Linked DNA regions of Homo sapiens. The protein of the gene in region 3 purifies or fractionates together with the protein of the main gene of each other region. This does not show direct contact. Each region holds a gene or a part of one and is shown on either strand. Other genes may lie near its edges.

Evidence for each region. Proteins that work in one complex are often made in the same cells at the same time.
Region 1: the proteins of BFSP2 (region 3) and TRIM11 purify together in Homo sapiens (co-immunoprecipitation; 3 studies listed by BioGRID and IntAct, with this or other methods). This does not show direct contact.
Region 2: the proteins of BFSP2 (region 3) and TRIP11 purify together in Homo sapiens (affinity purification with mass spectrometry; 2 studies listed by BioGRID and IntAct, with this or other methods). This does not show direct contact.

Annotation. Positions count from the first base shown.
Region 1 is NC_000001.11:228,403,836-228,411,443, forward strand, and holds the start of TRIM11 (E3 ubiquitin-protein ligase TRIM11), read right to left. Parts: upstream 3,001-7,608; 5' UTR 2,727-3,000; coding exon 2,319-2,726; intron 1-2,318. Other genes in the region: E3 ubiquitin-protein ligase TRIM17, read right to left, coding at 4,366-4,916, 5,337-5,440, 5,554-5,576, 7,111-7,341.
Region 2 is NC_000014.9:92,030,060-92,037,059, reverse strand, and holds part of TRIP11 (thyroid receptor-interacting protein 11), read left to right. Parts: intron 1-3,806; coding exon 3,807-3,868; intron 3,869-7,000.
Region 3 is NC_000003.12:133,465,652-133,473,487, reverse strand, and holds part of BFSP2 (phakinin), read right to left. Parts: intron 6,661-7,836; coding exon 6,529-6,660; intron 1,144-6,528; coding exon 923-1,143; coding exon of another isoform or gene 919-922; intron 1-918.

The sequences.
Region 1 (7,608 bases), on a different chromosome or scaffold from region 3:
GTACAGATGGGATTTCACCATGTTGGCCAGGGTGGTCTCAAACTCCTGACCTCAGGTGATCCGCCCACCTCGGCCTCCCAAATTGCTGGGATTACAGGCGTGAGCCACCACACCTGGCCAACGTTTTCAGTTTTCAACACTAAGGTTACAAACAGCATTTGATCAGATGGAATGGGCTGTAAAGCAGCACAACATACCCAGCATGGCAAAGATCTTGCATTTCAGGTACCTGCATCTTTGTGTCTCTGGCCAGATCAGAACAGAAACCTCTTACCCTGCGTGTAGTCAGAACTGGGATGCTGGGGCTTGGTGCAGGCCTGGGATCTTCCCTGGCCTCCTCCTTCCTGTGGCAAACCCCCTCCCCACACAAGTGCCATCTGACACACAACCCAGAGAGATCTGGGGGCCATCTTCTCTCTCCCATGGTGCTGCTTCCTGGAACTGGAGCTTACTGGGACTTCCCTGTTTACCACCTCGGGGCAACCCAGCCTGGGGCTTGTTCAGCTGTCATGACCCCAGGTCAGGGCCAGGCAAGGAGTGAACCTGTCATGGAGCTAATGGGCCCCAGCTCTGGCAAGTGGACACACAGCCCCATAGGTGGGACTGAGCTTTCTAGGCCCATGGGGGCAGGTAAAAGCAGTTTGCTGTGGTTAACATAACCTAGGCTCTAAGGCAGTGAAGAACAGGATGTCATCCCCAAATATACCGCTGTGGTACAAGAATTATTCTGAGTAAAAGCAGATGCAGGAAGAGCTCTCTGTACTCCTATCTGCCTAAAAGTAGGGTATTCATTCCCCATGAGAAAGGCACCCTCTCTCTACCAGGAAGAGGAGGGCACTCTAATCCTGGGAGATGATTCTGCCTAAACAGACCTTACTACAATGACCATTATCTTGTGTTAATTCTTCCCATCTATTTCCTAGTCACTTTCCCACAATTTATCAGTCCTAGACGCCCAATCCCATTTCTGTGTCCAGTCACTTCTCCACAATTCACAAACCTTTGCTGAAATACGCTTTTCTATGAAGTTCTTGTGCATGTGAAACTTAAAATATTAATCAAATTGTATGATTTTTTTTCCTGTTAATTTGTCTTGTGCCAGTTTAATTTGCAGCCCTGAGCCACTGAACCTAACAGGGTAGAGGGAAATTTTTTTCTTCACCTGCAAAAGAAAGGGTTAAGTGCTATCCCATGAAACTATATCGAGTCAACTCTATAGAGCTATTGGGCACTCTCTGCACCCATTGGGGTAATTGGTGTCACAAGGGTAATTCTGCTGGGCTAACATGTTTCAGGTGTAGACATTCCTGCATGGGCAAAGAAAAGAAAACCCAAATGAATCTGTGTCTGAACAAGCCCACGGATATGGCTCTAAACCACCTTTCTGCTAAAATCCAAAGCAGAAGGGGACAGATTCAGATTTATTCTAGTATCCCAGAAGTTTGCTCTGTGATAGGGACAGATCAAGCTCAGTACTGATTCTAACACTGCCTTAACTGCTCATCTGGCACACACAAGTGACCATGATGCAACACACAAAGTGCAATCAAGAAAGCTCCAAAGATGCTGCCATCTGCCCCACACGTAGGCTCCCAGGAGCACACCTGCAGCAGGTCAGCGAGGAAAGAGGACAGCGGGAGGGAGCGCAGGCCAGGGAACGTGTGCCCCAGGCCCTTCAGCTCGGGTTTTATTTGGGTTTTAAGCAGCAAGACAAGGGGAGAAAAGGCAGGCTGAGCCCTGGCATCTCAGATGGCAGAGATGGCTCCCAGTACCCCACCCAGAAATGCAGGGCAGCCCTGGAGGGGAGGTTAGAGAGGAAACGACTGTGTCCCCCTCATCCTGCCCAGTCTGGGGCTTTCCCAGGACTTAAGTACTGACCTGCTAACACAGTCCCTGCAGGGAGTCCATCTAGGATCGGCCACCTCTGAGGTTCTCCCACTTTCCTCTGATTCCAGCTCCTTGCTGGCCAGGGTATGGCCACATTTTCCTTGCCCCCACTCCACCACCTTCCACCTTCCACCTTCCTCTCTTAGCCTCTATCTATGAGAGGTACGCCCCTCACCCCCGAGAGCAGGGTCTCATTGGCGGCCATGGTCCCAGCCTCAAGGGGCCTGGTTGAAACAGGCTGTGTCATGAGCCCCCACAGCCACCCTGCGCGACACCCCCCTCACAGGCCCACAGCAGGCTGCATCCTGAGCTCCCCGCCCTAGACAGAGACAGATTACTCCCGGAGCAGTCCCCCAAACCTCCCACCCGCCCAGGCCTCCCCAGTCCCCGGCTCCCCGACGCCCCTGCACGCCACCCCCGCCCAGGAGCACCTTGAGGTCTTCGGCCGCGTCCTGCAGCGGCCGCACGCGGTGCGCCCAGTGCTCCCCAGAGCGCTCGCAGGCCGCACACAGGAGGCGCAGCTCGTCGCCACAGAAGGCGGCCAGTGGCTCGCGGTGCGCGGGGCACACGCCCTGCGGGACCGGCGACGGCGGGTGCAGGCGCCGCGCCATCTCGGCCATCTTAGCAAGCGGGCGGTTGGGCCGCAGGTTCCTCTGCGGGGACAGCTCGCGGCACTCGGGGCACGCGTACGGGCCCTCGGGCTGGCCCCAGCAGCGCCGGATGCACTCGCGGCAGAAGTTGTGGCCGCAGTCGGTCATCACCGGATCCGTGAAGTAGTCGAGGCAGATGGCGCAGGTGGCCTCCTCCTGGAGGTTGGTGGACAGGTCGGGGGCGGCCATGGCGCGGACAGAGGGGAGGAAGGCGGTACTGTCCGCGGGGCGGCGGCGGGCGGCCTCGGCAGCTCGCGGGGACGCGGGGTATCCGGGTGCGGCGGCGCAGGCTCGGGCACTCCGGGGCGCGAGGCTCGGGACTCCCGGGTGCTCGGGCTCCGGGGCGCGGGGACTCCAGGGCGCAGGACTCTGGGTTTCGGTAGCGCTGGGCGCGTAGGCTCCGAGCGCTCGGGGGACGCGGGACGTAGGGATCCCGGATGCCGGCAGGAAGAGGAGCCGAGGCGGAAGCAGGAAGCGACTGGGTGGGTTTTGTGTGTTTTTTTTTTTTTTTTTTTTTTTTTTTTTTTTTTTTTGGAACAACCCGCTTTTGCCTCCGATTGGCCGCTGCCAGTCACGCGGCCCGCGGGCGGGACGGAATTGGAGAGCTTTCACTTGCTGACCTGGCGTCACCACCGCTCCGGTTCTTGTGGCCAGGTCTTTTACCCCTGCCCTGGGGAGGACTCAGGCGCAGGGGAGGGATGGGGACAGGGGGCGGGGCGCAGGGGAGGGATGGGGACAGGGGGCGGGGCGCAGGGGAGGGATGGAGCAGGGGGCAGGGCAAGGAGGGATGGGGACTCAGGGCGGGGCACACGGAAGCAACTGCAAGGACTAAGGGAGTCCGCAGCCTGGGGCATTGGAGCCCTTCGCCATACCCCTAGTGCGTCCTCACCCCCTCAGCCCGTGCTTCCCAGGGCGGGTATCCTCGGAAGGCCCGGCCCTCACAGCCTTGGCAGGCCAAGGTCAGAATGATTGGAGTTGGGGGATGGGACGGGGGCATCCCTCCAGGACCAGCTCTCCAGGAGGCCCACATTCTTTCTGCGGGAACCACTCCAAAGGGGCATGCTGTTCCAGGCAGCCCCTCGCGCAGACACTCCGGCTTTGTCGAGGTAGGAGTACGCTTACTCTGGAATTCTGCCTTGCTAGTGACTGACACAGGCTGTTAAAGTGCTTGACCCTGCAGGGGTGGGTGGGGGGTTCCTTGGAAAAGGTAAGGGCGCTGTGGAAAAGAGGCCCCTACATAAATCCTAATCTCTTTGGGATTTTGCCCCTGCTCGTGCAACTTTGGGGATCGAACGGGATGGGGGTGGGCAGCTCTGAGGCTTTTTACGGGTTCAGCCTTTCCCATTTTCCCCCATCGAAGGACCCAATAGGATGCATAGGACATTTCTATGGGCAGCCTGGGACCATCCCTGACACAGCAACCACCCCCGCTCCTCCCCACCATAGGATATTTCTACTTCTTTGACAGAGTAACCTAAACCCCTGGGGGGGCTGGGAGCCACAGATTCCTGTCATTCCAAAGTGGGGGTGGGGGCATGGCTAAAAAAAACGTGACCACGCTGTTCCTGGTGTGTAGGTATGGATTTAGAAATCGGTCCACTCAGAACGCAGGGGCTTTCAAAAGTTTCCTCTAGGAAGCATCTGTCAGTATACCCTCTTAATGTTTGACAGTTCTAATCACAATTATATTTAGAATTTGAGAAACCCCCCTGTGTGTCTAATGGCTGCCAGCGTGATGCCAGAGAACCCTGGCAGGTGGCCTGCAGTAAGCAGAAGGCCCACACCTTCTGCAGAGCCAGGAGCAGTGCCCGAGTCCCCCGGTCTGTGTCTATCCTTTCACCCACATGGTCACTGTGGAGATGACCATCTGACCAGACTTCGGAGCCCCCAGGCAGAAGAAAGGCTGCAGGGGGCCTGGGAAGGTGGCCTGGGAGTAGGTGTGCAGGTGGGACCCATCGCTTACACTGTAGAAGGACACTTCCCCGGCTTCGAAGTCCAGGAAGATGCCCATGTGGCTGGGAGGCTCCATCAGCATGACCGGGGTTAGGGCAGAGAAGGTGGATAAGTACTTGGTCCCCTTGGACAGCTGCACCACCCAGAAGCCGTTTTCGGGGCACTTGGGGACCCTGTCTTTCCGGCTCACGTTGTCCCTGCACACACCCAGGGCCCACAACGCGTCCCCGGTGATGTTCATGCCCACCTCCCAGTAGTGCCTCCCAGAGGAGAAGGCCGTCTGGCCCACAGCACAGGGGTAAGCCACAAATCGGTCCTTGCTGCAGAACCCACTGCCCTCCGGCGAAGAGCCGAGGTAGCGCCTCTGGCGGCTCTCATACAGGAGGAGGTAGGGGTACGCGGAGGTGGCATCAGGCACCACATCCTCTGTAGATGGGCGTGGTGGTGGAGAGATGGGGAGAGGTGTGGGGCATTCAGGGTCAAAGGTGGGAGTCCCCGGGCCCTAGTGGTGGATGTGGCCAATGGTCCCCTAACTCCGCAGAGGCCTCCCCTGCTGTGAATCTGGGGTTACTTGATGCTTCCACACACCAATTGTGTGTGGGCCTTGGTGGCAATAAGGTACAGGGGGCTGGGCAGAGAGACCACTGGGAACTCAACAAGATTCATCCCATGAATTAGAACCACCAGTAACGCCGCCCTACGAAGGCACAGTGAATAGCCAGTGACCGTCACCAGGCAGTGCACTTGTAGAACCCCCCCCATTGGTGGCTTCCGAGGCTAGGGGGTACAGTGGGGCATCGCCAAGAGATCCTGGGTCAGAGGTCCTGGCCCTGGGTGCCCACTTACCTAGAAAGCCTCTTAGCACTTCAATCTGTCCGGGAACTCTGCACACAGTCCTGGGTCTGGTTGGGGGGGCAACCTCTGGGCACTGCACACTCACGTTGTTCTTCCTCCGGTGGGCACACACAGGGGAGTCTTATTGACTCCCCTGGCCCGACAGTCTTATTGTCCCCCCCGCCCACCGCTGCCACTGCCCCCGCCCCTGCCTGAGGGGACCACATACCTGCTCAGGGGTTCCTTCATGTCCTGCAAAAGACAGGGACGGAGGGTGGGGAGTGAGCCAAGCTCCTGGCTCACCTCAATGTCCCTGCTCCCTTCTTGTCCGTGTCTTAGGGCAAGACCCATCCTGTCCCCTGGGCATTCCCTTCCCACAATTGAGCTTCATGGCACTCCTGAGCCTTCCCCACTGCCCTAGCTCCCACTACCACCAGAGCCCCCAGTGCCTCACCTAAGCTGAGCTACCCTGTCAGCCCACGGCCACACGCCTGAGGTCCTGCAACTCAGGAGAGGCGGAGGGACCCCTTCCAGGCAAGTGGCCACTCAACACTGACCCTCCTCTCCCATTTCAGGTGGGTGCAGCCCACTCAGCAGGAATGGGGTGGGGGCGCAATTGGGTGCAGTTTGGGGAGGGAGGGGGGTGGGTAAGAGACTGAGGCACCTGGGGATTTTCTGTAGCCTCTTTAGGGATTCAGAGTTCCCTAAAGAGATCACTGTTTACTTCTCTGGCCTGGAAGCTACAAGGGACTTGTTTTCCAAAGGCCATATTTCTAGTTGCCAGAGCGTGACCCTAACTCTAGGCAGGGACTCTCATGCAGGTGGCGCGCTTGGCCCTCTGCTCATAGGAGCACCCTTCTACCAGCTGCAGGGGCTTTTCCCTCAGTTGGTCAGCAAACCAATGTAGTGGGTTGTGAACAGGCTGCTTTGTTTTTCCTTTTCCTTTTTTTTTTTTTTCCTAGATGTGATCTCACCATCACCCAGGGTGGAGTGCAGTGGCGCAATAGCTCACTACAGCCTTGAACTCACGGGCTCAAGCAGTCTTCCTGCCTCAGCCTCCTGAGTCCTGGGACCACAGGCGCACGCCACCATGCCCTGCTAATATTTTTAAGTTTTTGTAGAGATGGCGTCTTATCAGCCGTAATCAAGCCCCCTCTCCAGGGCCATGGCACACAGGCTGGTCCCGGCAGACAGGCTGGCTGCTTCACCTCCCCACTGCCGTTGCCACACAACTCACTCCTGGGACAGTGCACCTCCTCCACACCGAGACATGGAGTCCCTGTCCCAAAGCCACACCTGGCTGCCAGGTGTCCCAAGCCACCTCTCTGGACTTGGAAGGAAATGGGGACACTGTCTCAGGTTGGAACCTGTAAGGGGCTGACTTGTGTCCCCACTAATTCACAGGTTGAAGCCTGAACCCTCAGGACCTCAGAATGTGACTGTGTTTGGAGATAGCATCTTTAAGGAGGGAGTTGAGGTCACTGGGGTGGGCCCTAATCCAGTCTGACTGGTGTCTTTATACAAGGAGATGATTAGGACAGAGACGTGCATAGAGAGATGATGCCATGAGGACGCGGGGAGGAGACGGCATCTTCAGGCCTAGGAGAGAGGCTCAGGAGGAACCAGGCCTGCCCGCACCTTGGCCTCAGCCACCCAGCCTCCAGGACTAGCAGACTGGGAGCTAACAGCCCTTTCCCGTTGGCTGCCTCTTCCCCAAGCCCAGCGCCCCCTGCCCATGCCTGTCAGAGCTCACATCCCACCCTGCCTGCCAAGCCTACTGGCTCACCTGCAGCATCTGGAGGGGCCCCTGTGTGCTCCGCTCCTCCAGCTGCAGCAGCAGCAGCTCCAGAGAGTGACCCTGCCGGTCCAGGCAGGCCACGCTCTCCCGGAGCCTGCTGGCAGTCTCCTCTTCTTCCGTCTCCAGAGCCTGGAGGAGCCTCTGCTCTTCTTCCACCAGGTAGAGGTTCATCTTCTCAAACTCCAGCACAATGCGTTCTCTCCGCTCCTTCACCTTGCCCTGCAGGAGTGGAGAAGCCCAGCATGTTGCCAGCAGGTGGCTCAGCTCCAGGGATGCTGGCACCTCTCCCCAGGGCCCTGGTGACCCACAAGATCACCAGCAACTGGAGCTTTAGTTGGGGACCAGGAACTGTGACAGAGGCCCCCACCTCTGCCATCCTGTGATACACTGAGTGTAACCCTCCGAGCCCCGAACTGCAACTTCTACACATCCAAACACCCATGCACCCTTGCTCTGAGGAGGTTCAGAATGTCCACCCCCAGATAA
Region 2 (7,000 bases), on a different chromosome or scaffold from region 3:
ATTGATTTTGTAAATTTTTAAAAATAGGGGTCTGGCCAGGTGTGGTTCATACCTGTAATCTCAGCATTTTGGGAGGCTAAAGTGGGAGGATAGCTTAAAGCCAGGAGTTGAGGACTAGCCTGGGCAACATAGGGAGATCTCATCTCTACAAAAAGTTTTTAGCTGGGCATGGCTGCATGTGCCTGTAGTCTCACCTACTTGGGAGGCTGAAATGGGAGGTTTGCTTGAGCCCAGTAGTTAAAGGCTCCAGTGAGCTGCGATTGCACCACTGAACTCCAGCCTGGGTGACAGAGACGACCCTGTCTAAAAAAATAAAGGGAATGGAGGGTCAGAGTACAGTTCTTTTATTCATTGAACAAGTATTTATTAGTGTTTACCCTGTGTCAGTAATGAAAAATAAAACAGTTCCAAAATAGCACTATGTGGACAACTTGAAAGCCATCCATATTTACAATATCAGAAGGTTGCAGTTTTACCTAACACTACTGATTTATTCAAGGTTAGGAGCTTGGGCTTTTAAATCAGAGAGACATGGGTTGAAATTCTGCTTTTGTGCATTACAAGTTGTGGGATTTTTGGCAAATTATTAGAAATTAACCTCCAAAAGCACAGTTTCCTTATATGTTGAATAGGGATAATCATACCTATTGTGAGGTTGAGAGGATTAAATGAAATCATGAGTGTAAAATGCCTGGAATTGTGTCTACCGAATCGTAAACATTAATGAATGGTAAATGTCATATTTGCCCTTATTGACAAAGTCAGAATATTTTTGTCTGCATAATATCTCCCCTTTGTACTTAAAAAGGCCAAGTTTTTCTTGTTGGGGGAGGTGTGGAGTTTGCATGGACTTGTAAAATCCCTCTTTAAAATAGTTGCTGCTTTTAACAATTACCTTCCTAAACAAATTAGATTATAACTTGTCCTCTTCAGAGTAGCAATTAAACAGTCCTTTCATAGTTTCAAGCAAGATGTACAACCAACCACAGATGTAACCCTACCTGGTGATTTTCTAAACAAGAGTGTTTGTCACTGTAATTACTGCATGCTTCTTTTGATTTAAACCAAGCTTGTCCAACCTGTGGTCTGCAGGCCACATGTGGCCCAGGATGGGTTTTGAATGAGACCCAACACAAATTCATAAACGTGCTTAAAATGTTATGAGTTTTTCTGGCTGGGCGCGGTGGCTCACACCTGTAATCCCAGCCCTTTGGGAGCACTTTGAGGAGGGCCTCAGGATCACCTGAGGTCAAGAGTTTAAGGCCAGCCTGGCCAACATGGTGAAACCTCGTCTCTTTACTAAAAAATACAAAAATTAGCCGGGCATGGTGGCGCAGGCCTATAGTCCCAGCTACTGGGGAGGCTGAGGTGGGAGAATCACTTGAACCCAGGAGGCAGAGGTTGCAGCGAGCTGAGATTGTGCCACTACACTCCAGCCTGGGCGACAGAGCGAGACTCTGTCTCAAAAAAAAAATAAATAAATAAATAAATAAAAAATGAGGTTTTTTGCGATTTTTTTTTTTTTAAAGCTCATTAGCGATTGTTAGTGTATTTTATGTATGGCCCAAGACAGTTCTTCCAGTATGGCCCAGGGAAGCCAAAAGATTGGACACTCCTAATAAACTGTAGTCCAGATAAGTTATTTTTATATTAAAGAGCTGTGAGTAATGAAAAAAATACTAGTACTTAGAAAAAAAATCTAACTCTGGATGATGATTTTCTTTTCTTTTCTTTTTTTTGAGACCGAGTCTTGCTCTGTCGCCCAGGCTGGAGTGCAGTGGCACGATCTTGGCTCACTGCAGCTTCTGCCTCCCCAGTTCAAGCAATTTCTCCTGCCTCAGCCTCCTAAGTAGGTGGGATTACAGATTATAGGCACCTACCACCATGACTGGCCAGTTTTTTTTTTTTTGTATTTTTAGTAGAGATGGAGTTTTGCCATATTGGCCAGGGTTGTCTTGAACTCCTGACCTCAAGTGATCCACCTGCCTTGGCCTCCCAAAGTGCTGGGATTACAGGCATGAGCCACCGAGACCAGCCAGATGATGATTTTCTAACAGCATTAGTGGTGCCATGTTGACACTGCTGGGCTCTCACTCTACTTTTAAATGAAAATGTACAAAACCAAGGGCCATGCATGGTGACTTACACTTGTAATCCCAGCACTTTGGGAGGCTGAGTGTGGAGGATTCCCTAAGGCTAGGAGTTCGAGACCTGCCTGGGCAACACAGTGAAACCTCATCTCTCCAAAAAAGTAAAAAAATTAGGTAGGTGTGGTCGCATGTGCCTGTAGTTCCAACTACTTGGAAGGCTGAAGCGAGAGAGTTTGAGGCTACAGTGAGCCATGATCACACCACTATACTCCAGCCTAGGTGGCAGAGTGAAGTGAGACCCTTTCCAAGAAAATTAAAAAATAAAGATGAAAATGTAGAAAACCAGACTGAGCTCATTCCCATTTTTAATAAATTGTGTCTATGTTACTTTAAATAAGTGTTCTCAGTGTATTTTTCTTCGTTTATAGGTCACTTATTATTTGATAGTATTGAGAGCAGAAGTTAGTGACAGAGCAGGAGCACTGTTGTTATCTCAGACAAACAGTGCCACTTTAAGTTCCAGCTCCCTTTCCTTTTTTTTTTTTGGAGACAAGAGTCTCACTCTGTAACCCAGGCTGGAGTGCAGTAGCACAGTGTCGGCTCACTGCAACCTCCACCTCCCAGGTTCAAGCAATTCTCCTGCCTCAGCCTCCTGAGTAGCTGGGATTACAGGCGTGTGCCACCACACCCGGCTAATTTTTGTATTTTTAGTAGAGACGAGGTTTTACCTGTTGGCCAGGCTGGTCTCAAACTCCCGATCTCACGTGATCCGCCCACCTTGGCCTCCCAAAGTGCTGGGATTACAGGCGGTGAGCCACCGTACCTGACCTCCAGCTCCCTTTCTAGCCTCATGCATTTCAAGGAAGTCACTTCTCTTCTAACTACAAGCAGCCAGAAAAAGCAGACAGTAAAACACATACAGAGGGAGTGCTCGGGCACAAAGGGAGGTGGGGGTAAAGTCTCTTGGGTAACTGCCAAACTTCACTCTCATACAGTGGGCCCCAGTAAAGCAGTGGGCCTTAGAAAGCACATTCCTTTCCCTTCAGGTGCACTAAAATAGGGAAGCTAAAGCAGACTCGGGGGGTATGCCTGCAGCTCTAGAATAAATGGAACAAATACACAACTCTCCCTCCCAGATAAGCACTACAAAAAAACACAGAAGCAGTCTAAGCCTCTAATAAATTCTCCCACCCTAAATCCTTAAAAACTCTTAGTCTGGAAAAGAGTGTGCCTCTAACCTAACTCAGCCGAACACCCCTCTCAGGTTTGTTTTCTCTAAAATAAACCTGTCTTAACTGGCAAGCCACCCTTTGTGTTTCTCTCCTCTTTCTTTAATTCTTACAGTTAGAAATAAGGCCTAAAGCCCCAGTTGAGTAAGCTTCATCTAAAATTATAGCAGCATTAGCCCACAGAGAAATAGTTTTAATTTCTAAAGCTTAATTTCCCACAACAAAATTCTAATGAACATTTCTAAGGGGTAAAGGTAGACATCCTAAGATACAGGGCATAGGCAAAAAGAATGACTTTTATGACAATGAAGAACATTAGTGTCAGTGAAAAGTTGTTATGGAAATAAAGCGATTTGTTTCTTCTGAATGCTTTCATATCAGCCTACTATTCTGTGTAAACTCAGTGAAATATATTTTCTTGAAAATACCTATTTATTACTTCATATGGTATTGATTAAATATTCAATATTTGTTATTTCTCTTGTAGCAGAATTACCTGATTCTAGGACAAAGGAAATTGAAGCCATTCATGCAATCTTGAGATCAGAGGTAAGAAAAATCAAAGACTACTTAGATTTTTCTTTTTTGAAGTCATGAAGGTTACTCAAACATTACTTTGATCCTTTCTTTTTAAATGTACTGCTTAGCACTTTTTTTCTCTTCTTGTTTAATTTTGATTGTTTTTTGAGCTTTTATCAACCTTCTGTAGATGAAAAATATATTTACCTGTTACTGCAGTTTGCTATTCTTTAATATTCCCATCTCTATTTCTGTATAAGTAGGAAAACTGCCAAATGTAGAAATAATAGTATCAATAATTTATCATAATCCAGAGTTTACTGTGTTCTAACAGCATACTAAATTGCAGTGGCACATTTATTTAAGAATAATTTTTTTTTTTTTTTTTTGAAACGGGGTCTCACTCTGTCACCCAGGCTGGAGTGCAGTGGCACTATCTTGGCTCACTACAACCTCCACCTCCTGGGTTCAAGCAATTCTTCTGCCTCAGCCCCCCGAGTAGCTGGGACTACAGGTGCACGCTACCACACCCAGCTAATTTTTGTATTTTTAGTAGAGACAGGGTTTCACCACATTGGCCAGGCTGGTCTCAAACTCCTGACCTCGTGATTCACCCGCCTTAGCCTCCCAAAGTGCTGGGATTACAGGCGTGAGCCACCACGCCCAGCTAAGTATAATATTAAGAATGCAATTCTGTTTAACCTGGAGCTTTTTAAACACTAAAATGATAATAATATTTGGATACAAAAAAGTTAAGAATATAGGAATAGCAGCCAGGCACAGTGGCTCATGTCTGTAATCTGAGCACTTTGGGAAGCCGAGGTGGGTGGATCACTTGAGATCAGGAGTTTGAGACAAGCCTGGACAACATGGTGAAACCCCATCTCTAACTAAAAATACAAAAAAATTAGCTGGATGTGGTGGTGCACACCTGTAATCCCAGCTACTCAGGAGGCTGAGGCAGGAGACTTGCTGGAAACTGGGAGGCGGAGGTTGCACTGAGCCGAGATCACGCCATTGCATTCCAGCCTGAGTGACAGAGAAAAACTCCATCCAAAAAAAGAAAAAAAGGATACAGGAATAGCAAATTAATTTTAATGTTTTATTCATTATTAGGGTCTAGATTGGGCGCAGTGGCTCATGCCTGTAATCTCAGCGCTTTGGGAGGTGGAGGTGGGAGGATGGCTTGAGGCCAGGAGTTTGAGACCGGTTACAAAAAATAAAGATAAAAAAATTAGTCAAGGTGTGGTGGTGGGTGTCTGTAGTCCCAGCTACTTGTGAGGCTGAGGTGGGAGGATCACCTGATCTTAGGGCCCAGGAAGTCAAGGCTGCGGTGAGCTGTGATCCTGCCACTGTATTCCAGCCCGGGCAACAGAGTGAGACCTTGTATCAAAAAAAGAAAAAGACATTTTAATAATTTAAATACAGCAAATCCAAATTTTTATTTAATTTTTTTCTGGTTTTGAAAGCATAAAGACTCAAAATAAGCAATGTTCTTTGAATTCAGTGAACTGCTTTTTAACCCTTAATTGTATAACCTGGAATATCTTTATCTTGTAAAATATTGATTCCAAAGTTCAGTTACCTCTCTAATAGATTTCAGGTTATTATTACTTCTAGTTCTTTTCGTTGTGGTTGTTGCTTTGAGACATGGTCTTGCTTTTTTGCCCAGGCTGGAATACAGTGGCACAGTCATAGCTCACTGCAACCTTGAACTTCTGGGCTCAAGTGATCCTTCTGCTTCAGCCTCTTGAGTAGCTGGTACCACAGGCATGCAACACCGCACCCAGCTAATTTTTAAAGATTTTTTTGTAATAGGCCAGGCACGGTGGCTCATGCCTGTAATCCCAGCACTTTGGGAGGCTGAGGTGGGCAGATCACTTGAGGTCAGCTTGGTCAACATGGTGAAACCCTGTCTCTACTAAAAATACAAAAATTAGCTGGATATGGTGGTGGGCGCCTGTAATCCCAGCTACTTGGGAGGCTGAGGCAGGAGAATCACTTGAACCCGGGATGTGGAGGTTGCAGTGAGCCAAGATCGTACCATTGCACTCCAGCCTAAGCAAGACTCCATCTCCAATAAATAAGTAAGTAAGTAAGTAAATAAAAAAATAAATAAATAAATAAAATTTTTTGTAGAGACGATGTCTTGCTCTGTTGCCCAGGCTGGTCTCAAACTCCTGGCTTCAAGCAGTCTTTCCACCTTGGCCTCTGAAAGTGCTGGGATTACAGGCATGAGCCACATGCCCAGCCTGGTTCTTGATTGTGTCATTAAAAGCAATACTTTTGAAAATTTTAATGGCTCATGATTTTATTGAAGAGATGATGGCTGTCATCTTTGCTCTATAATTTCAAAAGCATGTTTATTCTTAGATTTATAAATGCCAATTAGAATGATCAGTCCACTGAGTTTTTTTCATTTCTGTGTCATCTGTTTCCTCCCAGTTGCCTTTGTGTACACACCTGCTTTCAGCCTTCTACATATGAACATATCAAGTAAATGTTGGTGTACAAATATACATGATGAAAGAATACTGTCACATGGCCAGGCATGGTGGCTCACGCCTGTAATCCCAGCACTTTGGGAGGCCGAGGTGGGTGGATCACCTGAGTTCGAGACCAGCCTGACCAACATGGAGAAACCCTGTCTCTACTAAAAATACAAAATTCGCTGGGCGTGGTGGCACATGCCTGTAATCCCAGCTACTTGGGAGGCTGAGGCAGGAGAATCACTTGAACCTGGGAGGTAGAGGTTGCGGTGAGCCAAGATCCCACCATTGCACTCCAGCCTGGGCAACAAGAGCGAGACTCTCAAAAAAAATAAAAAATAAAAATAAAAAAAGAATACTGTCATGTATCTGCTTAGCAAAATGAAATGGTTTAAGTCCTTGTCACAAAATAATGCAGAGTGAAGTATTTTCCTGTTGAATGACTAATTGATCTGAAAGCCATATTTCTTTTTTGTTCTTAAAAATATATTATTCACTCATCAATTCTTTTTTTTTTTTTTTTTTTTTTGAGACGGAGTCTCGCTCTGTCGCCCAGGCTGGAGTGCAGAGTGCAGTGGCGGGATCTAGGCTCACTGCAAGCTCCGCCTCCCGGGTTCACGCCATTCTCCTGCCTCAGCCTCCCAAGTAGCTGGGACTACAGGCGCCCGCCACT
Region 3 (7,836 bases):
AATGATCAATAAAAAAAAAGAAAAAGCCTTTTTTTTTTTTTTTTTTTTTGCTGCTGCCTCTTCTCTCCCACTTCCGGCCAGGAATGAGGATGTGATGTTTGGATCTGTGGCTGGCATATGGTAACCATGGGGTGACAAAGATAAAGACAAAAAGCCAATGTTGTCATGGTATGTTAGAAAGATGAAAAGAGCTTGAGTCCTTAATGAAATCTTTGAGCAGCCTAGATCACCTGTTTCTGGGACTCTTAAATAAATGATTTACACATCTTTGCTACTCAGAGTGTAGTCTGTGGAGCAGCAGTATAGTCATCACTTGGGAGCTTGTTAGAAAGGAAGACTCTCAGACCCCACCCCAGACGTACTGAAGCAGAATCTGCATTTAAAAAAGATGCCCAGCTGGGGTGTCACGGCTCACACCTGTAACCCCAGCTATTCTGGAGGCTTAGGTGAGAGGATCACTTGAGCCCAGGGGTTTGAGTCGAGACCAGCCTGGGCAACATACCGAGACGAGACCCTGTATCCAAAAAAAAAAAAAAGATGCGCAGGGTTTTGAGTGCACATTAGTTTCAGGAGCACTGGTTTATAGCCTCATTAATTAGGTTCTATTACAAGCAACTGAAACATTCCTAACAGCTATTATGTACGTCCTAGGTATACACATGTATGTGAATGTATGTGTGTATATATACATACATAAATATGCATACATATAGAAAATGTATTAGTATGTGAATATATTATATATATTATTTGTATGTGAATAGGAAAGGAAGGACACAGCTAGGCTGTGGGAATGGGTGCCTATGTGAGAGGAAGTCTGGGGTGATTTCTTCTTAAATACTTCTACAGTGTTTGGAAAATAATTATTTTTAAAGCCATGAATATGCATCTCTTGGATAATTGACGCGGAAGCGAGGCTTACCCGCTCTCCTCCCTGTCCAGCAGGGCGTGGTAGGACGCCACGTCCTTCTGCAGCTGGCACTTGCGGGCCAGCAGATGCGCGCGCTCCTGTTGCTGCTGCTCCGCCTCCGCTCGGATTTCCCTGAGCTCCGCCTCCAGCCGGCCGACCACAGCGCCCAGGTTCTGGAGCTCCATGTCATGCCAGTGCTTGGCATCGTGCAAGGTGTTCTCCAGGCCTCGTTTCTACAAAAGAGCGAACCCGGTCCAAACCCGAGGACAACAGGCCGGGCCCTTGAAGAGGGAGGTGTGCAGAGCAGTGGCAGGGGCTGGTGGTAGCCTGGACTATTCCCCTCGTGGCAGGGACCTTGCCAGTTATGGAGACTGATGGGGGTTATTCTTAGTGGCTCCGTGGGAAAAATAAGGAATCCCACTCAGGTCAGACTGTGGATTAGTCTGATTGATCTTTTTGATGGGAGAGAGGGTGAGGGAGGCGAAAAAGAGAAGGAGAGAGGGAGGGAGAAAAGAAAGGGGGTGTGAGGAGAGAGAGGAGCGGGGCAAGAGGGATAGGGATTGAGAGAGACAAATGAGAGGCAGCTTGCAGGCGTTTCTTCAAAGAAATCTTGTTCTCCGGGGCTTTTTCTTCTGATTTCTTCACTCCCCGGGGGACCCCTTCTCCCTCTGCTGCTGAAACCCCATCCATCATTTGGCTGGAACACCATCTCCTCCAGCTTTCTTTCCCAGATCACTGTCCTTAGAATGAATGTCTCTGGCCTTTATATACTCAGCGCTTTCCCCTTTGGTGTTTTAGTAGCACATTTTTGCCCATCCCTTTTCCTCTGCCGTCCCTTCACTTTGGGCTTCCCAGTGCCCACCCTGAGCCCGCTTTTTTTCCAAGGAGCGCATCCTGGGTCTGTGTTGGTCTCCATCATACTCATGATTTGAACATACTCATGAGTCGTCTCCAGGCCACGTCCTGCGTTGATAATTCCACCACCAATCTTTCCTTCAGTAGCTATGGACCTGCCACTGAACTTCTTACTGGAAACATATACTCAGACCTCACATCAAGGTGTCCAAAATGAAGCCACTGGCTGCCTCCTGAACCTGCTGGCTCCCCCTAGTCTATGCTTCAACGGGTGAACCCATGTGAGCTGGAAACCAGGGAAAGATGTGTTCCTGCTTTCCTTCCTTCTCTTCCTTCCAAATGCAACCATCATGGCCTCCTGTATATTATGAGTCCTGCTTCTTGTATCTCTTGAGAAGTTTTCACATTCTGCAGCCACCATGGTCTGGGATTGGGAGCTTGTCACCTCTCACCTGTGGTACCCTCAGTGGCCTCTTAGCTCATCTCCCCACCTCTAGTTCCTCCTCTTCCTGAGTTCCACACACAAATAGCCACAGTACTCTGTCCAAAGCCCAAACCTGGGCCTGTATCTCCTCTGCTTAAACTCCATTGATGGCTCCCCAGGGCCCCTGATATGGCACACACAGCTGGCCCAGTATGTTTCCATCTTTATCCCCACCCTACAGCAGCATCAACACTTCCAGTCTTGGAGTTTATTTGGTCTGTGTTCTTTCCTCCACCTGCACCATGCTCCTCCATTCCTTCCAGCATCCTCACCTCACTCACTCCTACTCATCCCCAAGTCCAAGCTTAGAGGTAACCTGCCCCAGGAAGCCTTCCTTGAAACTCCTCTGCCGCTACCATCACCAAGCTGGGTTAGGAGACCCTCTGTATTTCCATGGCTCCCCAAGCTCATGCATGCTCTTGAACTTATCACAGTGGGCTAAGCTTGCTTATGGGCACGTCTTTTCCACCAGATGGTGAGACTTGGAAGGAACCAAGTCTCTGTAGTCCCAGCACACAAGTCAGGGCCTGGCACAGAATAGGTTCTTGGTATGTGTAGATTGCCCTGGATGATAGCACTTGTATTATGGTTACACTTATTGCACTATCTATGTCTCCCCATTAGACTGGAAACTTCTTTCTTCTCATCTTCCCATGCACCATGTCCTGAAAACTACAGAGCTAATCAATAAACCCCTTTAAAAAACTGTATCTGTGTTCAACATTTTCCAATAGTTTTAACTATGGTTCACCTATACTTTAGCATCTGGCTTTTTAATATAACACACAAAAAACAAATATCTTTCTAAATTGGATTGAATTAAATTTTGATGCAACAAGTTTCTGTACCCTGTCCTCCAGGAGGAGACTTTTTACACCCTTATGACCACTATGGATGAAACAGAAAATTCTGTCACGACACCATCTTGAATCATGACTGCTGTTAGCATGGATCACCATATTACCTTATTTAAATCTTCTTAATTCCATAGGATATGAGAATGTTGAGTCAGATTCTCATCTGTCTGAGGCATATTTATAAGAGGCAAAACGTGATCACTAGAAAATAAATCTAGATCAGTATCTGGTCTAGGGTTATTATTTAACTAATAGAATCTGGAAACCTTTCTATAGCAGTGAGGATGCAGAAATGGCCACCTTGACTTTGAGCATCATTTGTTCCAACCTCCCTGGGTTTTCTCTCTTTGTTTATGCATGAAAGTACTTAACTTGTGACTAGTTGTTGTTGACATTGGATTTGTAACATCTGTGATTTGGGAACACGCTTCACAGAATCACGGTTGGATCATCTGTCTATAGTTTTTGCTCCATCTTCTAGGTGAGTTCTTCATGTGGCCTGAGGTTTTTCCATGGTGACTTAGGACCCACTGCCAACAGGGCATTCATTGGAACCCCAGCCAAAGGTTATATGTGTCTTCCATCTCACCCTTAAAGTCCGAATCCAGCTTCCCCACCTAAGTCCCTGACATTATGGCAGAAAGAGAGGATGCCTGGTTCTCCCAGAGATGCTTGAGCTGGAGTGACTATGATCAGGCTACTGTTGCAGGCAAGTACACTGGCTCAGTCAGCCACGCAGACAGCACCAGCAAACAAGCTGAGATCACAGAAGCACACTTATTCTGCAGGTCTCTGGAGATTTGAAGGGACTTTCTGGGATTGCAAAATCCTCCAGAAAGTAAAATAGTGACCTTCTGTGACTTCTGGCCTTGAATTCCATTCCTGATTTGAGTTGACTGGACACAGAGTTCAGCAGGTCTCAAGCACCATTATTTGTGCCTAGCTTCCAATGCAAATAGTGCCTTATTGGCAAAGGGGGCCGAAAGTCTCGCCAGCTTGGCTGTCTGAAGCTTATATAAGCTGCGGGGGCCTTGTGTGTGCACAGATCGCTCTGACAGAATAACAGGAATGGCTGGATGAACTTCCTGTATCTGAAAACTGTATGAGAGTTTGTTACCTATTTTGTCCCAATCTGTGCTCCTCACCTTGGCTGCAAGGCCCCGTGACCAGAACGATAATCTACTAGAACCAGCAGGGAACAGAGGCAGCCTGTTCTGGGCTATGGGCATAGACAGAATGGCACTACTCTGAAGTTTTCTGGTTGAGAGTGTAAATTATTTTTCCATTTTTTTCCCCAATGGTTAGGACCCTGGGTTTAAGTGAGGTGACCAGGTGGCTGGTGATGCCAACTTGGAGTTACTGTACTAGTAGCTATTATAGCAATTTTATATGATAATTAATAATAGATGGCATTTATTGACTGCTCACTAACTGCCAGGCACTGTGCTAAGGGCTTGACATACATTATCAAATTAATCATCTCAATGACGTTATGAGGTAAATTCTATTACGATCCTAAAGTGGCTCACACTTGCATTGGCAGCTACAACAATTATCTCCACTCCACAATCGCTTTCTCAATGTGACCTTGCCATTGTCTCATCAAGAAGTTGAATTTATTTCTCTCCCTGTTGAATCTAGGATAGTCTTGTGACTGCTTTGACCACTAGAATGTGGTATAAGTGATGTCCAGAGACTTTCGAGCCCAGGTGTTAAGAGGCCTGGTAGCTTCTGTGCTCACTCAGGTGCTATATCAGAAGTTTGACTATGTCAGGCTGTCATGATATGAGGAGGTCTAAGCTAGCTACACGGAGTGGTCACAGGGAGAGAGAAAAAGAGATGCACAATTGAGTCACCAGAGAAGCTAAATGAAGAAGCCATTTTTGGGTGTTCCAGCCCCAGCAGAGGCCACATGATACAGAGAAGAGTTATCCCTGCTGAATTCTGCCTAAATCACAGAATGAGAGAACAAGTGATTCACTGTTGTCTTAAGCTACTAAGACAGTAACTAGATATGATAGCCAAAATAGATCCTCACTTTACAAGTGAGAAAATGAAAGCTGTTCATTCACATAGCTAGTGAGTGAGGAGAGCACCCACCACGAAGTCTACCTCCTGACTCCCACAGCAGGGGTGCTCTCTCCCATCTGCCCCTCCCTCACATTTGTATCAGCTCCTCCACCGAAGCCACATTAACTCTTTGGAGGCAGGGACCATATCTCATTAGTTTTATGTCTCCAAAGCACTTGGTACAGTTCTAGGAACATAGCAAGTTCTCAAAATAATGCTAAGAGTCAGAAGAGCATGCTCATGTGCATCCACACATTGGATCCCCCTAGAAACACTGAGAAGTGGGCTGGACTGTGACTATCATACCCATTTTGCAGAAGAGGAAACTGTGGTTCAGGGATTTGCCTCTTTACCCAAGGGATAAATGGAGGAGCTGAGCCCTTCTGACTCTATTACTCTTGATTTTCCTCCCCTCAGATCCTCAGATCCTTTTCTTATACATGCTTGCACGGACCTACATCCTATCATGCGCCTCATTGACTCCAGGCCATCTCAGCTGCACAAGGATTACATGGACCAACCTTTGATTTGCACCAACGAAGCTGTAGTTAGAACAATGCAAATGACCTCCTGGAGGGGACATCTAAGAAAAGATGTTTAATACCCAAATAGAACTTCAATCCATTCCAGAGATCAGAGGGTGGATTGCTTCATTATTAATACATTTTATTATTTTAATATTTTAATAAATAATTAATAATGAAAGAGACGAGCTTGCAAATCCCAGTGAGTCTGAGAGCTTACTAGATGTCTCAGGTTGGGTTCTCCAGAAGCAGAGCCTGAGTTAGGGATCCTGGAACTCGCAAATCATTAAGGAGTACTCTCAGGAAAAGGGGGAGTGAGGAAAGCAGGACAGGGCAGAGGAAGGCACTAAGCGAGGATGTGGTCTCTGGAATCTGGCTACAGCCTGGTCCTATGGAGAGCTCTATAGCATGGAGCTAGCTCCATGTTGAAGCAAAAGGGCTGGGCTTTTAATTTTAAAGCCCCCTCTTAGTCACTGGCTGAGCCTTGGGGGGCAGGGCCTAACCTTCTGGGCCAGGTGTCCTCAGTGTGGGTAAGGGCAGGTCTCTGGAGCAGTGGGGCAGCTGAAAAGGGGCGGCTGCAGATGTTAACAGTCAACATTTACTGCAGCAGCCTGGTAAGAGATATTTCCGTGGGGCACTACAGTGTCTATTGCACCTGCTGTGATTCAGTATCTGATGATCCTTGGGAGTCAGAAGACATTTCAGGCCTCAAAACTCATATGCTGTGAGATGGGAATCCCCTGGAAACTAAGATCCATAATACTGGAATTTGACAGTAGAGAGTTAAAATTAGCACAAGGACACCAGGTCTTTCCTTGGCCCACTTACCAGGGCACGTAAGGATTCTGTCTCAGCCTGGAGGCTCTGGACTTGGCACGAAGTGTTGTGTAACTCCACCCTGAGGGCAGCTGCCAGCTTCTCCTCCTGGGTCTGGGACATGTGGGCCACCTCCGCCTGTTGCTGTGGAGAGTCAGGTCTCAGTGTGAGCGGTGATGATCAGAAATCTGAGCCCATCCTTCCTTCCCAGCCTTTCTAATCACCACTCCACTGCCTCTAACCAGAGGAAATACAGCTGTCACGTGGAAACATCTTTTTTTTTTTTTTTTTTTTGTTGAGATGAAGTCTCGCTCTGTAGCCCAGGCTGGAGTGCAGTGGTGCGATCTCAGCTCACCACAACTTCCTCCTCCTGGGTTCAAGCGATTCTCCTGCCTCGAGTAGCTGGGATTACAGGTACCCGCCACCAGGCCTGGCTAATTTTTTTTGTATTTTTAGTAGAGATGGGGTTTCACCATGTTGGTCAGGCTGGTCTTGAACTCCTGACCTCAGGTAATCCGCATGCCTTGGCCTCCCAAAGTGCTAGGATTACAGGCGTGAGCCACCACGCCTGGCTGGAAATGTCTTTTTTTTTAAACAGGTCCCTTCACCAACTTGTATACAAAAATGTATTTATTTTGAACATACGATGCCTGCAAATGAAATACAATTCAAAAGATTTCCTACAGACTATAAAGTCTCATTTTCTCCTGTGTCTTAATTATCCAGTTCTCTTGTTTCTAGTTTCTTATTCCTCTTTCCAGAAATAGTTTATATATTTATAAATAAATATGTATTGCCCCCCCCGTGCTTTGGTACTTAAAGTATCTTAGAAATTATTCTATATCAGTACATATTAGGTTGGTGCAAAGGCGATTGCAGTTTTCGCCACTACTTTCAATGGCAGAGACAGCAATTAATTTTGCACCAACCTAATAGAAATTGAGTACATTCTTTATAGCGGCTGCACAGTGTTGTCTTGTTTGGAAGGGCTGCAATGTATTTAGAAGTCTCTGCTGGTGGACACTCAGATTGTTTCTAGTCTTTCTTTCTCTATTACAAACAATGGTGCAAAGAAAAAGCTTTGATCCCTTATTTTTCATACAAGAGCATGTCTTTGAGAAAGTAGTTCTTGTAGTAGAACTGCTGATTAGAAAGGGTATATATTTTTAATTTTGGTGAATAGTGGCAAATTTCCCTTCGGAAAACTTGAAATCCATTTCAGCATTGTAAGACAGTGCCAGTTGTCCCATACCGCCCTCAAACCAGGAGTTATCCAACTTGATCTCTGTCAATCTGATAGTGCCTGTTTCCTTGTGAAAA